Homo sapiens: one gene and its partner. The protein of the gene in region 1 interacts with the protein of each later gene in a pairwise test. Each region holds a gene or a part of one and is shown in the gene's direction. Other genes may lie near its edges.

What was found.
Region 2: the proteins of SPRY1 (region 1) and CREB5 interact in binary tests that used the Homo sapiens proteins (3 or more experiments, as listed by UniProt).

Annotation. Positions count from the first base shown.
Region 1 is NC_000004.12:123,392,611-123,400,199, forward strand, and holds the start of SPRY1 (protein sprouty homolog 1), read left to right. Parts: upstream 1-4,184; 5' UTR 4,185-4,322; intron 4,323-5,000; 5' UTR 5,001-5,246; exon of another isoform or gene 5,247-5,903; intron 5,904-5,911; exon of another isoform or gene 5,912-6,207; intron 6,208-6,929; exon of another isoform or gene 6,930-7,184; intron 7,185-7,589. UniProt on the Homo sapiens protein: Inhibits fibroblast growth factor (FGF)-induced retinal lens fiber differentiation, probably by inhibiting FGF-mediated phosphorylation of ERK1/2. Inhibits TGFB-induced epithelial-to-mesenchymal transition in lens epithelial cells.
Region 2 is NC_000007.14:28,407,375-28,415,655, forward strand, and holds the start of CREB5 (cyclic AMP-responsive element-binding protein 5), read left to right. Parts: upstream 1-5,143; 5' UTR 5,144-5,540; coding exon 5,541-5,543; intron 5,544-8,281. UniProt on the Homo sapiens protein: Binds to the cAMP response element and activates transcription.

The DNA of each region.
Region 1 (7,589 bases):
AGTGGTGCGATCTCTCCTCACTGCAACCTCTGCCTCACGGGTTCAAACAATTCTCCTGCCTCAGGCTCCAGAGTAGCTGGGATTACAGGCACTTACCACCATGCCCGGCTCATTTTTGTATTTTTAGTAGAGGCAGGGTTTCGCCACGTTGGCCAGGCTGGTCTCGAGCTCCTGACCTCAGGTGATCCACCCGCCTCGGCCTCCCAACTGCTGGGATTACAGGCGTGAGCTACCGTGTCCAGCCTTCTTTTTTCAATATTAGTCATTCTCTGTTCTTAAAGGGTATGGCTATAGTTGTTTCATCAAATCAATATTCTACTTTTTTTTCCGTTCAAATAAAGGATAAACTGTAGCCTTTGACGTAGGTTATTTCAATAGGAAATATTATAGTGAGGAAGCCCTAAGAGATGCTTTTTTTGTTTTGTTTTTGTTTTAATGAGAACACACTTTTATTTTCTTACTGTGCTATCTTTGGGGGACAGTTACAAGTTTAACTTAACGTAGATTCTTACGTGCTTGTCTCTGAAGATTAAGATAGCAGTAGGTAGTTGTGGGAATGAGAGATTGATAAATTTTGTTGACCAGAATCAAAGATGATACCAGGTGATCATTATAAGGGCCATTCCACTTCTTGTTTCAAAATACAAATCAGCGGAAGAGATGGCTAATCTTGTTTTCTCATGAAAATAAAGAACAAGTCAAGGCTTGGGGGGAACATCTGACATCACTGGAAGAGGAAAGAAGACAGGATTTATTTTGCAATTAGCTAGGTAAGAATGAGGACTGTTTTGTACGTAGGGCAAAAATGTTTCCTTAGACAATCTTACCATGTGGGTTTAATTAGTAAAATCTTTAATATATAGTAGGGATGCAGTTTATCTGAACTCTTGTCACTTTTATTCTCTCCAAAGGAATATGGCACTTAAGAAATAAAGCGCACCAATTTAGGACACGTCCAGGTATATTTCTTTCTTTTCTGACAACTTGCAGAAAAATAGAATCGCCTGTGACAAAGTACACAAATGATTAGTTGAATTATAGAGCTGACACAAACTACAAATCATTCAGTGTAATTTACTCAACGTATTGCTTGATTTGCCCACTTCCAGAATTTGAAACCAATACGGAACATTCGTATTTCAAATAAGGCAGAAGGATGAGAATTACGCTTATGAAAATGAAGAGAATGTTTATGGAAAATTTACAGAATAGGTTGGTCTATTTCTGTCAACTACAAAGATTGTTTACAAAAGGAAACTGAAAATAAAATGGCCTATCCTTGCCAGCTTTTCTTGGGAAGTATAGTAATATAGTGACTATTGCCCTAAAAGGAAAGTAAAGAGAACTTAGTTTCCATTACCGGTCTTCATTGATTTATGACATGCTTATAAGCTAACTCATCAATGTCTGTGATTATTTAGTTTGTGTGTTTGTTTCTCAACAAGATAAAAAGACTGTGATACATTTATTTATCATGACTTCACAGAAACATTAGGAGAATTAATAACGTATTATTTTTCAAAAGCTTGGAACACATGATTGTTATTTTTATTTTGGCAAATAAAGTAGATACATGAATAAGTTAAGCTTCCTATAACTGTATTAATTTTTTTTTTCTTTTTGAGGCGGAGTCCAGCTATGTCGCCCAGGCTGGAGTGCAGTGGCGCGATCTCGGCTCACTGCAACCTCTGCCTCCCGGGTTCAAGCGATTCTCCTGCCTTAGCCTTCTGAGTAGCTGGGATTAGAGGCACAGACCACCATGTCCAGCTAATTTTTTGTATTTTTAGTAGAGACCAGGTTTCGCCATGTTGGCCAGGCTGGTCTCCTGACCTCTGGTGATCAGCCCACCTCAGCTTCCCAAAGTGCTGGGATTACAGGCGTGAGCCACCATGCCTGGCCATTTTTTTTTTTAATCACTAGAAGTTGTGAGGAGTTACTGAATTTTTTTCATTTCACTTTATTCTTTTTCAAAACTCAAATTAACACAAGCGATGGCTAATCTTGTTTTCACATGAAAATTAAGGACAAGTCAGGGCTCACTTTCCATTCCACTTTATTTAGACATATCTTAATAAACTAAAAATTATTATAAGATTTTTCCCATTGATATTTGCATTGTTTTTCATTTTTGGAAAAATTTCATACTTCCGTTATCCATTTTTAGTCAAGTTACAATGTAATTAAACTTACCAAGTGAAAAACAATGTATACTTTAAGCTAAAAATTTAGAATTTCTACAAAGTCTTATAGTTGCGGGGAATCAGGAGAGGCAAGTTTCATTCAATGTCTTTTAGAACCAAGGTGACAGAGCTATACGTACATTTATTTGTAATGTAATATTTAGAGAAAAACATATTAATGCATTTTAGTGCTAAATGACATGGAGGGTTATTGATCAACTCTGTACAGCATATTTAATTTCTTAATACAACATGACCCATGGTGATGGTGTTTTAGATAAAAATCTCATGGATTTGATTATTATAATTTAAAAATACTTGATCTAATGAAAATTATTTTAATACATTTCTGGTTGAAATAGAGTGTATTTGCAATAGAAATCTTTCAAATATATTTTGTAGGATTTATGAAGGTAGAATGTTCAGTGCTCCCTCTCCAGGTTTTATCATATTGGTGAACTGACCTCTCAGCTCACAACTGTGGTAATAGTTTTGAAGAACCAAATAAGATACTCTGATAGGATAGTCTATTTTTGATTTGTCTATTCCAAATACATTCACAAGAAACCTATCCATCACTAGTAAAATTTCATTACATCCCCAAATCTAATGAGATCTATGAAAAAAATACAATGAAATCAATTTTATTCTTTTAAATAGCCTATTTTAATACAATTCATAATATTAAGAGTGAATATGTAGCTTTTTGGCTTGATTCTTATTCTATGCTATTTTCTAATGATGCTTTTTTATTGTTATTCATGTTCTTAACAATGCTCTGTGTTCTTCAGAGGCAATTCCAAACACAACTTTAATTTTTGAAAGTGCTCAGACATTTGAAAGTCCTGTGTGTGTGCGTGTGTGTTATGTATGTATATATTTATAGTTTCAACAGAACCACTTGCTATTGTAAATGAGACTAAAAATGTACTTTGAACTAAAAATTTCCATACTTATATGTTTATATGATTTAGATTCTAGAGTTTTGTTATTGTTTGCTTTGTTTTGCCAGACTTTAAGCTACTCCTGATATATAGTACCTGGAAAAATATTTCCTTTCCACTAAGTTTTTGGTCTTTAGGTGGCTTTTAAAAGTTTCTACGGAACCTTCAATTCCACAAAAAGTTATCCTCACTGCAGCATGAAAAGGCACAACTTTGATAATAAATGCCTAAAATCCCATAGTTTGTAAGAAAGTAGAAATCAAGTTTCCTACTTAAAGTGTTTTTTTTCCAGTCATATCAGCTATTACTAAGAATTATAAAACTTCTTGATAAATTTTTTCTATTCTAATTAATTGACTTTTAGCTAATTAAAAAATATACGGGTTTGTATTTTTTGCAAAATTATACAACTATATTACAAAATTGAAAGAATTTGGTTTTTTCTCCATGTGCTTGATTTTTGGGAAATCATATAACAAGCCAAGGTAAAGCAATTATTTAAAAAACCCACAGCAGAAAATTTCACCTTTATTACATATGCTTATATTACATTTGCAGTAAGGAGTGCCACCTTTTGAACTTTAGGTTTCACATATTCTGAACTTTGTTGTAAATAGGAACTGTAATGTTATATAATCATCTTTTTGTGTCAATATACGTTTTCCCTCTAGTTGGTCAGAAGTGATGGCTTGGCATACAACTTTTTTCATTTTCTTTTATTCTTCACAATTCTTTTCTAATTCAACTTAAGAGTAGAGTCCACCAATCCTTTTAATTGAGATCGACAACTGAAGATTGCTAACTAAATCCGAATGTATTCCTCTATGACAAACTGCATTTGCAGAATTTTTAGAGGCACTCCCGAAGTTTTAAGAGGATGTTTATTACACGAGTCTGTAGGGCAACATTTCCAAGTTGGTACACATAAACGAAAGAGGAAACGATAGTTAAGGAAATCCTGTTCCAGGTTTTCGGGCAGCCCGAGTGATTGACACATGATATCACCGGAGGCGTGTCCTGGAGTGGAGGTGGAGGTGGAGGCAAGGAGCTGAAATTCTGCGTAGCCGGAGTGAGACCGCTCTGCAAACCACTGCGTGCTTTGCAGAGTGATTATCAGCACAGTTCCCTGCCCTGGATAAGGAACAGCTACAGTCGCTGTTAAATGTGCCTGAAAAGCAATTTGCAATCTTTGCATTAGGTAAGTACCGTTTCCTTCCGTAGACATTTTAGGAAAGATAAGGTGAGAAATGTTGACTTTTGCAAGGAACTGAACATTTATTTATTTGAACTTGCTTTCCAGCTAAGGTTACTGGTTGCATTTCAAAACACCGGTAGCATTCCCACTGCTAAAACTAATGCTCTTAAAGTAAATGCTACCGCTAAAAGAAAAAGCAGGGTCCCTTTCACCTTTCCTTAACCGAACAGTAGACGTTTAAAGTCTGAAACGATCGAATTTGTGAAACACAGAGCCGTTAATGCCTTTATGCGAAGAGGGGCTAGCACTCGGTGTGTGGACCAAATGCGTGTTTGTTTAGGCATTGTTGGCGACCGAATCCCGAGTGAAGCATTGGTTTAAAACCTGAATTTCCCGTCTCTGTGTATTGATTCCTAACGCGCAGAGGCGTTGCTTGAACGTTGTTTGAACTCCTAGGCATTCCAGGGGGCAAAAGCACCTCGGCAAAAACGTGCAGGACTGCATGTTACTTTGGTTCGCGGCTGACACGCCGACTGTGCGCCGGCCTGTCAATCACCGGGAGCAGCAACAGGGAGCACATGGCAACGGGCTGCGGGCGAGCTGGCCAGCGGCCCGCCCGGGGTCCCAGCCCTTCGAAGAAAGGGACATTCACGAGCTTCTATCTCTAATTCTCTGTCGCAGGCATTTCGGCCGTGGAACCCCAGGCTCGGAGGACTGGGTGTGAGCGCTGCCCGGGAGAGGCTGACCTGCCGGGACCGGAGTGCCCGGGGACGCTGTGCCCCCACTTGCCCAACGTGCGGAATCGGCTAAGCGCGTCGGCCTGCGCGGGGCACAAGGGACGACGCCCGCCTTTCTCTCTCCGAGAAGGATCCCCAAACCTCACTCTCTTCACTCCTCCCCGCTAAAAAAAAAAAAAAAAAGAAAAGGGTAAAAAAATCCCCCTCCCCCTCCCGGCCGCGGCAGCCTCTGCCTGGCAGGCGCGTGCTCCGAGGTTTCGCCGGGGTACTGCGCGGCTCCGTGACCCACCCGCCGACGGCGGTTCGGGCCCCGACCCGGGCGCTGCGGAGTCTCGAACGCCCGTGACGTGGATTTTTCGCTCGTCAGGAAGCCGCCATCCCTTCCTTCGTTCCTTGCGAGGAGCGACTAGAACCCGAGTTCTCTGAGCACACCGTGCCGTCAGCTGGCCCGTCACGCACTCGACTCCGCCACTCCCCTACTTGTTTTTCTGAGACTTGGGAAGCCTTCCTGAAAGGATTTGTAAAAACTGGTTCTTGGAAAGGGGCTGCAGAAGACCTCCCGAGGTGGATGTTACTGAGCCGCCCGGCGAGCACCAGCCGTGACAGGTCCGGGCCCGGCCGCGCGGAGCCGCGGGAGAACTGCCCTCCGCAGCCGGAAGGGGGCCGCGGGGAGCGCTCCTGGCCGGTGGCGGCGGGGGCGGGGGAGGCCGCGAGCCGAGGCGCTCCAACTCCGGCGATGCCGCCTCGCCCTCCCCGCCGCGGTTGATGCGGCACGTGCACGCCGCCGCCCGCACCAGGACCTGGGCCGGGTCGCACGGCTTGGCCCCCGGCCACCGCTTCGGCCTAGGTGAGTGTGTGCGGCGGCCGCCCTCGGCCCGCTGGGCTGTAGGCGCGCGGGCGGGGCTCGCTCGGCGCGGCAGGTGCGGACTCGGCGGCGCTGCTGCCCGAGCCAGGACTCCGGGAGAGGAGGGGAGGGGAGGGACGACCTCGCTCGGCGCGGCCCCTCCCGCCGCTCCCTGCCCCCTGGGGGCCGCGGCTTCTGGGGGCTCAAGGTTGGGTGGCGGGGTGGGCGACGGTCTGCGGCTGCGGAACGTAACAGGACAGGGTCTCCTCCATCCCCGATTACCCGGAGCGGCGGCGCGGTGGCCCAGGTTGTCCTCTCGGAGAGCCCTTCACGCCCAAGGGGGATTTCAGGCGGCTCTGGGGATGTCCCCGGAGGCCCTCTTTGGAGGAGTGTGCCTCAAGCAGGGGGACGACAAAGGCTGTGTGTGTGCGTGTGTGTGTGTAGGCACATCCCCGGAATTCGCCGATTACCCCCTCGATAGAATTAGGCAGCCCCAAAGCCAGCCGCAACTTTCTTCTGGTTTGGAGCACAGTGCAAAGACAGGGGAAGGGAGAGGGCACTGCCACTTTAAAAGTGGGGAAGTCGGCTGGGCGCGGTGGCTCACGCCTGTAATCCCAGCACTTGGGGGGGCCGAGGCGCGCTGATCACCTGAGGTCAGGAGTTCGAGACCAGCCCGACCAACTGATGAAACCCCGTCTTTACTAAAAATGCAAAAATTAGCCGGCCGTGGTGACGCGCGACTGTAGTCACAGCTACTCGAGAGACTGAGGCGGGAGACCCGCTTGAACCCGGGAGGCGGAGGTTGCAGTGAGCCAAGGTCGCGCCACTGCACTCCAGCCTGGGAGACAAAGTGAGACTCCGGCTCAAAAAAAAAAAGTGGGGAAGTCCGCCCTCCTGAGCTCATGGTAACCTCAGCCTCCTCCCCTCCTCCTACCACAGAGAGAGGGAGAAAGAACTTGTTTTCATTCATAACTTTTTCCTTTTCCTTCTTCCGTCAACTATTTATTCAGTGCGGATTGCAGAGGGCGCAGCTCCACCGTGGTAACTTGCAATGTGGCCGCCCCTGCGCTGGCTTCTTTCTCCTCGGCCCTCGGTGAACCCAGCTTTTCCTTTAAAGCATAGACAAATCCTTGCTTAGGGTCAGCCAGACCGTGGGCTTGCTTTGGGCTCCCGCGTGGACGCTGAAGGCTCTTCATGATTTCTCAGAAACCTTGGTGGGCCACCCAAAAAGTGTGTTGGAAATCCACGGTGATCCTTAATATGGTGATGGGATTGTCCGAAAAGGTATTCTACTTCCATTCGCGTTTTCTTGGGGAAGGCAGTGTGCCGAGCGCGTGTGAGCGTGTTTGGGGCTTGTCCAAGACTGTCACTGCTTGAAAATGGGCTTTTCTTCGGATCGGAGGTGGCGAATTTTCTTTGCTTTTAATTTTTTTGTCTGGCAACTTTATTTCCCAGCCAGTATGAAGTTTGTTACAACTATCATTGGAAATGCAAATTGAAGTTGTGCCTGGTGTTATGGGTTACACTATTCAAATCCTCTGCGGTTTTGTGAATCTGGCTTAGTACTTTTAGCTACCTTTTGCTTTGAAAGCACTGAGTTAAGAAGTTCTTGAAGAAGAGGAATAATTGTGCAGGAGTCAGGATTAGATGTTGAGGACTCCGAGACTAAATCCCCGCAGGTTATGAATG
Region 2 (8,281 bases), on another chromosome or scaffold:
AATAAAATTCTTAACTCGAGTCGCTGTAGTTATCATCACCATCCTCATTCATAGTTGAGGCAACTGAGAACCAGGCGTCAAGTAGCAGAGCTAAAATTTGAATTCAGGCAGGCTGACACTAGAATCTACACTAATAAATACCTCTTCTTTTCTTCAGTTTACATTTAGAAATGATTTGTGTGTGTGTGTGAGATCTGGAATATGTAAAAATCTCAGTCTGTAATATGACAGCTAGAAACCTTTTGCATGAAATTGCAATGATTTTATTTCTACAATAAGTAGAAAACTCAGTGATGAACTCTGAATAAGGCTGTGAGGATCAAACAGTCATCAGTCCCTGTGGTTTCAAGGAACACTAAAGGGCAAGGGGCCACTTAAACACTTAAAAACAGAAACAACATGCTAAGCTCTTCCATTTAGTATGTCAAAACCAGCTCAGAAGTATGTGACAATCCAGGCAATGTATTACAGTTTCTAGCCAGTCCAGTCATGATTCTCTGGCAAACTGCACCGTCATGGTTGTGATGCATTGGGATGAGAGGTACTATATAAATGTCAGATGTTACATAAATGTCAGAAATGATTATTGTTTATTAACGAGGGCTAAACTGTTTCTAAGCAAAGCTCCATCTCCCAGCCAATGTGTTCTTAGCAGAGGTTCCAACCACCAATAACCCACAAGAAGGGAATGCTTACCCCTGGCTCTATGAAGGAGCCCAGTTGGGATCTGGGCTTGAAAACAGGGATTGAGTTGGGCCCAGTGCCACCCCTTGCTCATCAAGTGATCTCAGGCCAGCCCCCAACCTTCTGGTGTCTGCCTTAGCTCACCTGTAGAATGGGAATAATTATAATACCTGTCCTACTTCTGGTACCCGGGTTGGTGTGAGAAACAAGGGAAATCACGTGGTCGCAAGCGCTTTGTAAGGTGTGAGGGGCTGCGAGGTTGGCATTGGTCGTCTAGAATCGGGCTGGATTTAGCCTATGCCTTCTCTTTGAATCCTACTCAAAGGGAGAACTTCTGAAAGGAAATTCAGCAGGGGGATGGTGACAGTGATGGTGACGGCCGGATACTGGAGACGCCAGGCTCCTCTCGCTGCAGACCAGGCGCCCGGATCCTGCAGTCTGGCCCTGGCTCTGCCGCTCCCCAGCCCGTGAGCTTGGGCCAGTTACCGAAGAGGCTCTGGAAGTGACAGCCAAGGGCCCTTTCGGCTCTGACGCCGTGTCTAAATCAGGCTCATCACTTGGCTCTAGCTGTGATTCACCTTTCGCCTTAGGAGCAACTCTCCCTACAGCTTCTCAGACGCATGAAGCAGGGGTCCCGCGAAGGGTGGGGCTGTGTATTTCATGAGAGTGTGCACCATAAGGAAGTTATTCTCCTGGAGGAGGTGAGATGAGGGGGCGGTGAAGAAGGGGTGACAAGTGAGTGCTCTGAAAAGCCAGGATGCAGGGAGCACTGAAATGAGGTCATGACTGTCGCAAGCAAAAAGGAGCTGGACATCCTCCGGTGGGGGAGGGAGGAGCGTCCTGCATTTCTGTTTGCAAAGTCTTTTCCCACATCCTTCAGCATCCCCCTCCCCACCTCTCCCCTACCCCCATCCCTACACCTTTCAAACCCCATCAGGCCCTCCCCGCAGAAGAGCCCACGCCCGCGCCTCCTCCGTGGTCTTGTCTGAAACCATAAGGATTGTTTCCAAGCTGACTCACACCACTAATGTCAGGGAGCCGTGTCACACGGCGCTGGGCTCTGCAAGCTGTTGCTTGCGCAGTCGCCCCCGCCGCTGCCGCTCCCGGGCGGGTGCACCAGGGTCCGCGCGGGCGGGGCGGGGTCGGGGCGGGACCGGGGCGGGGCCTGCCCCCTCGACGCGCCGGCCCCGCCCCTCGCTCCGTCCCTCCCCAGCGGACCGCAATGATTTAGAAGTTCAGGAATCCCACGTGACGTCACCGGGGGGGTGATGTAATGCACTCTAAATAGAATGTATTGTAATCTTTGCTCAGTCCAACGTGGTCCCTTCACCCGGGCTCCGCTCTTGCCTTCTCCACACTTGTTTGGTAAGTTCCTAAAAATACGGCTCGGCCACTTCTGGGGCTTTTGCATTTAGCCACTTTTGTTGCACTTGCCGCAGGAGCCATCTCGGGAGTGTACTTGTTTGCAGGGGTTGGTTCTCGGCAGCAGCCGCGAGGTTACTTGGTCCAGTGGGCAGGTCACAGGGCAAGGAGTAGGGAAGATGCGATGCATTTTTTTCTGGAGGGTGATCTGTGTTTGTAAACATTTTGGCGGACCAGAGGGAAGTCCGGCCCCGAGTGCTGGTAGACTGTGGAATTCGGCTGTGTCCTGAGGCCACCCTAGAGACCCCGCGCCGCGTGAGTGCCGGAGCGCTCGGTGGCCGCCGCGCCGCGCGCCTGGAGGGATGCTAACGTGGAGCCGGCGCCGAGTCCGCCCGGCGTGCGTGCGTGTGTGGGAGCGCGCGAGTCCCCTGACGCGGGGACCAGTTATGAATCGGGGGTGTGTGTTTGCCTCCAGAGACCTGGCAAGGTGCGGAGCCCTCCAGAAGTGCGGTCAAGCGGCAGCGGAGACGGCGAGCCAGGAACCTCCCCCCGCGTCCCCAGCTTCCCAGCGTGGCGGCGGAACCCCCGGAGAAAGTTTGCAAACTTCCAGCGGGCGCGGCGAGGACGCCGGGTCACCTAGGGGGCGGGTGGGCGCGCGCGCAGGGGGCTCGCTCTCCCCGGTGCGGAGCTGCAGCTGCCACCTCTCCCGCCGGGCTGCCGGCTGCAGCGGGTGGGCGCGCGCCCGGGGAGGGGAGGTCGCCCTCGGAGGGCGCTTGGCTTTCGCTCCAGGCGCTCCGGGCTGGAGAGCGGCGAGGCTCCGTCCGCTCCAGTCCACTCCTCCGGCCGCCTCCTGCCTCCGCTGCTTTCTTGCTGGCATCGTTACCTCTTCCCGGCCGCTGCCCCAAATGACAGCTCCGGCTCGAGCTTTGGCGGCGCCCAGGCAATTCCCAAGACCTGGCGGCGGAGTCTCCCCCTGCGGCAGATTCTCGGCAGAATCACTTGAACTTTTCACGAAGTTCTTAGAGGGGCAAGATGCGAAGGAAGGAACCAAGGAGATGTTTTCTCTCAGCAGCTGCATCCCGCTTCTTCTTTGCCATAGATTTATTTTTAAGGGGCGTCTGGTAGATAAAGCCCTAGACCTTGTCCACACTCTCACCCCCATCCCCAACTTTCCCTGGACCGGTGCCGCCCCCACTTGATGCTTGCTCAAGGCCGGGGACTGGAGCGGGCTACTTGTATATTTCGTTGTCAGTCTGCAGAATGTGTTTGATTTTTATTTTTCCCTCCTTCTCTGACATGTGTCAAGGAATAAAGACTGGATACAGGTCCATTACGTCATTCTGCAGGCCAGTAAGTGTTTGATTAACGGCTTGAGCTCCTCAAGGGTTCAGGAGCTTAGAATGCTGACAAAGCAACTCTGCTTTGCATCCCCCTACCCTCCCCACAACACACTCGTGCAATCGCCGGCTCCCTGGGCATCTTTATTGCCCTCTCTTCCCAGCCCCTCCCTCTCCACCACTCCCCCGTCTACACCGTTATCACTCTAGCCCCGCCCCCGCCTTTTTACAGCTTTCCCTGGGGCGAGCACGGTCCCTGGAGTGTGGGTAAAAGCTTCTGGGGTCTGAGGGGACCACTGTACCTGATCAGCGCGCAATCCGCCCTTTTGTATTATTTAAGAAAGGCACCAGTAAGCCTTCTCCTCTAGGGCGAAAATGCTTAGTCCTGATAGAAAAGGCAAATCAGGAAATGTTTGCAAGCGTTATGATAATACTCTGTCCTCGTGGTGGTGACTTAGGAAAGCAATACACCCACTGCAAACAAAGTATTTCACTTTACGTAGTGCCTGCCCTTTAGCAGAAGAGGGATGCTGACAAAATCAGGTTTAGCTGAAAGGATCAAGACTAAACGTTTCATTTCCAAAGTGAGGGAATGTGAGTCGTTGAACCTAAACTTCCATACAATAAATTGCTGCGTGCGTTAGTTTCTAGCTCTTAACCTTAAGTTTCTATGTTGAAAGAGGAAGTCGAATACGTAAGTCATTGAACTGAGTCAGAACCTCCGTATCTGGCAGTTGAAATAAAGACCCTGTGTATGACTTGTTGCAAGGGATCAAAGTAAAAAGAACCCTCGGTGTGGGGGGTGGGGGGGTGGGGGCGTGAGGGAGGTGTGCAGCAGAAATTAAATTTAAAAAAGTATTAACAGAGTTTTGGATAGAGGGAGAGAGGGGATTGGAGTGGTCCCTGATTTGGAGTTGGTGAAAACTAAATAAAGAAAAGTTTATATTGCAAATATGTGGGAATTTCTTGAAGAACACATGTTTTCTTATAATTAGATCTACTTTCTTCAAAGCGAAAGCCATGCTGTAGGGTAGGCATTTGTGAAACTCCTGTCTGGGGTCTAATTGACATCCTTCCCCAAGTCTGTGGCAGGATTTAGTATTTATTCACATCTAGAGATGAAATAGTGTAACCTCCACACAATATATGTGCATCGAAAATGTTGAACTTCTTGTTTGTGATGCATAGACTTAAAGGAAAAAAAATGGCCCAGTCATGGGCACTGGAAAGTGTGATTAATGATCAGTGATTTAGTGATCAGTGATTAGTGGTTTTATTCAAACTGTTACCTCTGACCAGAAGCACACATCAGAGGATTAACAGGCTCTTTAGATAAATGCTCATTAGTGGAAGGGGAAAAGCAAAGATAATAGGCATGCACCCAGGGACAACTTTCGAAGAAAATCATTCCCGTCTTCAGAATAATAAGCTCTATTAACAGAAAGCCCTTTTAATTTAAAACTTGCTTTTATCTTGTAAATCAAAGTTAGATGTAAAAGTTTGTAGTGCCATTATAACCTAAATTTTCCCATATCCACTAGATGTGGATTATCTCAGTAGCGATATTTTTTTTTATTTAAACAAACAATTGGACCTTTAGAGCAGCTGAACCCTGACAAGTTCTTAACTCCCAGGGTTTGAAAGTGTCCCCCCTTCTAGCATGGAGATTGCAGCTTGCTAACTAGATGGCGCACTGTTATTTGGTGTTCTCTGCTGCGTAGCGCAGGAGTATAAACTGAGCATGTAGCTGCTTGCGAGGTGTTCTTCAACATTTACAACAAAGTTGATTCTGTGTAGGGTTGGAGGCTAGACAGTTCCACAAATTTTTAGTCACATTTTCCATGTCAGTTAAATCTAGGGAGTTCAAGACTACTGGAAAAATTAGTCTCATTACTAAAAGAAACTTAGAGAACGAGGGAGGTACCAGAGTCTAGGAGGTACCTCTGGGTTGCAGAAGTAATTGTAAAATACCAGACCTGTTCTTTTTACTAAAAGCTAGTTTCACTATCTTCTGGTCTGAAATACTGAGGCAAATACTCAAGACTTATTTTCTTCCTAATCTTGCTGGTGAAACAGAAGTTACTAGAAAGAAAGGAAGAAAAAACTTGATTTGGTGACTGCAGGAAGCAACACGTTGCTGCTTTTATTCTACAGATAATGGTAAGGATGATGTTTATTATGCATATTAAACAGAGAGAAAACTTTGCACTTAGTTAAATAGAACCAATGTTGTATTTTCATAGATGGAATTCAGAAATGGAGTTTAGATTTTGCACAAAATTTTAATGTTGCTTTTGTCAGTTTCCTGGGACTTATAGCATTTTATGTGGAAGGATGTGTGTGTGTGTGTGTGTGTGTGTGTGTGTGTGAATAAGACTATTATTTCCCAGGTAAAATATGTTCAGAAGCATATGAACTACAGTGGGGAAGCTATGGAGCATGTTAAGTAATGTGTCAAGCATGAATTCCCCTTTCTGTGAGGTTTCATGAATCACTTCAATAAGTATTTAAGTTTTAATAAGAAAGTTCTTGAAAAAGAAACCTAAAAATTAAAAAAAAACAATAAAACAGTTTTCCGCATTCAAACCTAGATGTGTATGCCCCTGAAGGATGATTCTATGGGTTGAATATCAACTATTACTTTAGTTCTAAAACTTAAAAGAAGAAGTATAATAAAACTCACTTGTGTCTCCCCAGAAATGTTTCTCATTTTCCTTTGCTTATAGCATTTTATATGGATCTCTTATTTTTAAATCCTTACTGATTATAGTGGTTTTTATTTTTCAACTTAACTCATAGTAAACATATTTGAAAATATCTCCAAGCCCACTATTTTTAATGTAAATTGCTGGTGCCGATAAATTGCCTGTCAATTAGCGGTCAGTCGTGACCTTATATAGTTGATACCTGAGAAGATAGTTTATTAGAACATTCCAACAAAAAATTGGAAACCATGCCCTTATTTCTAGATCTCTGTTATGTCACAGCTTTTATTTGAATAGGTGGCTAAATGAATGGTAGTTTGTCACAGAGACTTTTCCTGCATAGATTTTCAATTCTAGTAAGTTTAAGATTTTTGTTACAATGATTTGTCAGTTTCCCACACCTGCACATTCAAAACCAATCAATCATGGAGTTTCCATGATGGCAAGTTCCTAGACTCCCAATTTCTTACTATAATCTACTTTTTAGCAATGAGGTATCACAATCCTATAATATTTTCTTGTCATTGGAGTTTACTTCTTACTAAGCTAAAAATTATTTTGTCGGTGTGTAGTGTTCACTAGATCACTAAGATGTGAACTTTGTATTTGTAGTTCATTTTCTTCTGGTTATGTTGTTGGATTAAAATTGGGATTTGAGTGGACTTATTATTTTTGTCATCTTTTCTTTCTTCTCCTTCTCCTTCTCCTTCTTCTTCTTCTAAGCAATGCAGTTAGTCACAAAATTAATGTGATCCTGGCTGGTGTTTCCCATCTATATGCTTCTTTTGCTTCTTACAAATTGGATTTCTACAGCAATTTAAGGTCTTTTTTTTTTTTAGAGGCAGCTTTCTTGGATGAAGATGGAACAGTGATCTCAGTCAATTCATTATCTTGTCCACTTTGACTACCAGCTGTATTATGGGAATCAACCAATGCTTAATTAGTGTTTAAAAATTTAAATCTATGACTATTTCTCTGAATTCTATTTAAGAAAATTATACAATTGAGATAAGGTAATAAACTGGGGGGCAATTGCCTTAAATATCTAAGTGTGAGGAAGAAGCACTTTCAGATATGCTAAACAGACTTAAAGACACAGAAGACCCTTTTTGTGTTGCTATTTGTAAAATAAGTAAGCTATCTATTTTGTGGCAATGCTTTAAATACAAAGTCTGGCACTTTAAAAATGACATCATGTTTAATGTTTTCACTAAAGAATTATTACATTTCGTAATTAGGAAAAAAATGAGCAATTAGTGTTTTTTGAGTATCCATTAGTATTCCATTGTTGAGAATCACAAATCATAGATTTAACATAGGAATTTTTTTTTTTATAAAAAGAGAGAAGCCTTTTAGAAATTTCCAGATAGTGATAGCACTCTTCCAGAAACCCCACTAAAATTTTTGAAGCTCTTATTGAGGACTCTGGGACTGTCACAGTAAAAGATAAAGTTTAGGATAAATTCTTGAACCCATAAAAGATATTATATTGACATTTCAATATTTCTTTTTTCCAAGTTCACTGTATTGCCTTCCCCCTCACCCCCTGAGAAATAGATCAGAATCAGTTTATCACTTTAAAAATATGTATTTCAGCTGCTTTCTTCTATTTCCTTAAGGTTACATTTCTGATCTTAACCCTAAAAAGATTTTAGGATTTCAATCCTTAACAAGGATTGAAAACTACCAGGCTGGCGTTTGACTAGAACTGATTTTAGAGGGAGTTCTTTTAGGCCTAGAGATTCTGATGGTGAGTTACAAAGGCTTATGGCTTTACACGGATGGTAGGGCTAGGGGAGGGCCTCGGATTGATAGACCAATTTTTCATTTTACAGAAGAGACCCCTGGCTCACCCAAGGCCCAGAGCTAGAGAGAGCCAAACCAGGCTGAGAAGCCTGGTCCCTGCCTCCAGGTCGGGTGCTCCTGCCATAAATGCCCTTGTCAGGAATGGGGCATAACCTATGACTTTGTATCCTTCACTCTTTTCAAGCCTTTTGATGACTAATCTTTCAAAGACAAATTTTTATCAGATCTTTGGAATGAACACCTTAATCATAAAAACTGTAGTTTCTATTTCATTCATTCTTATATAATATCTGCAATGTTATTTTTTCTAATAAGGGCCTCCTTAATTAATTTTAACTTAAATTCTCCTTTTTTCATCATTGTTATGAGACATACCCTGTAAAACCA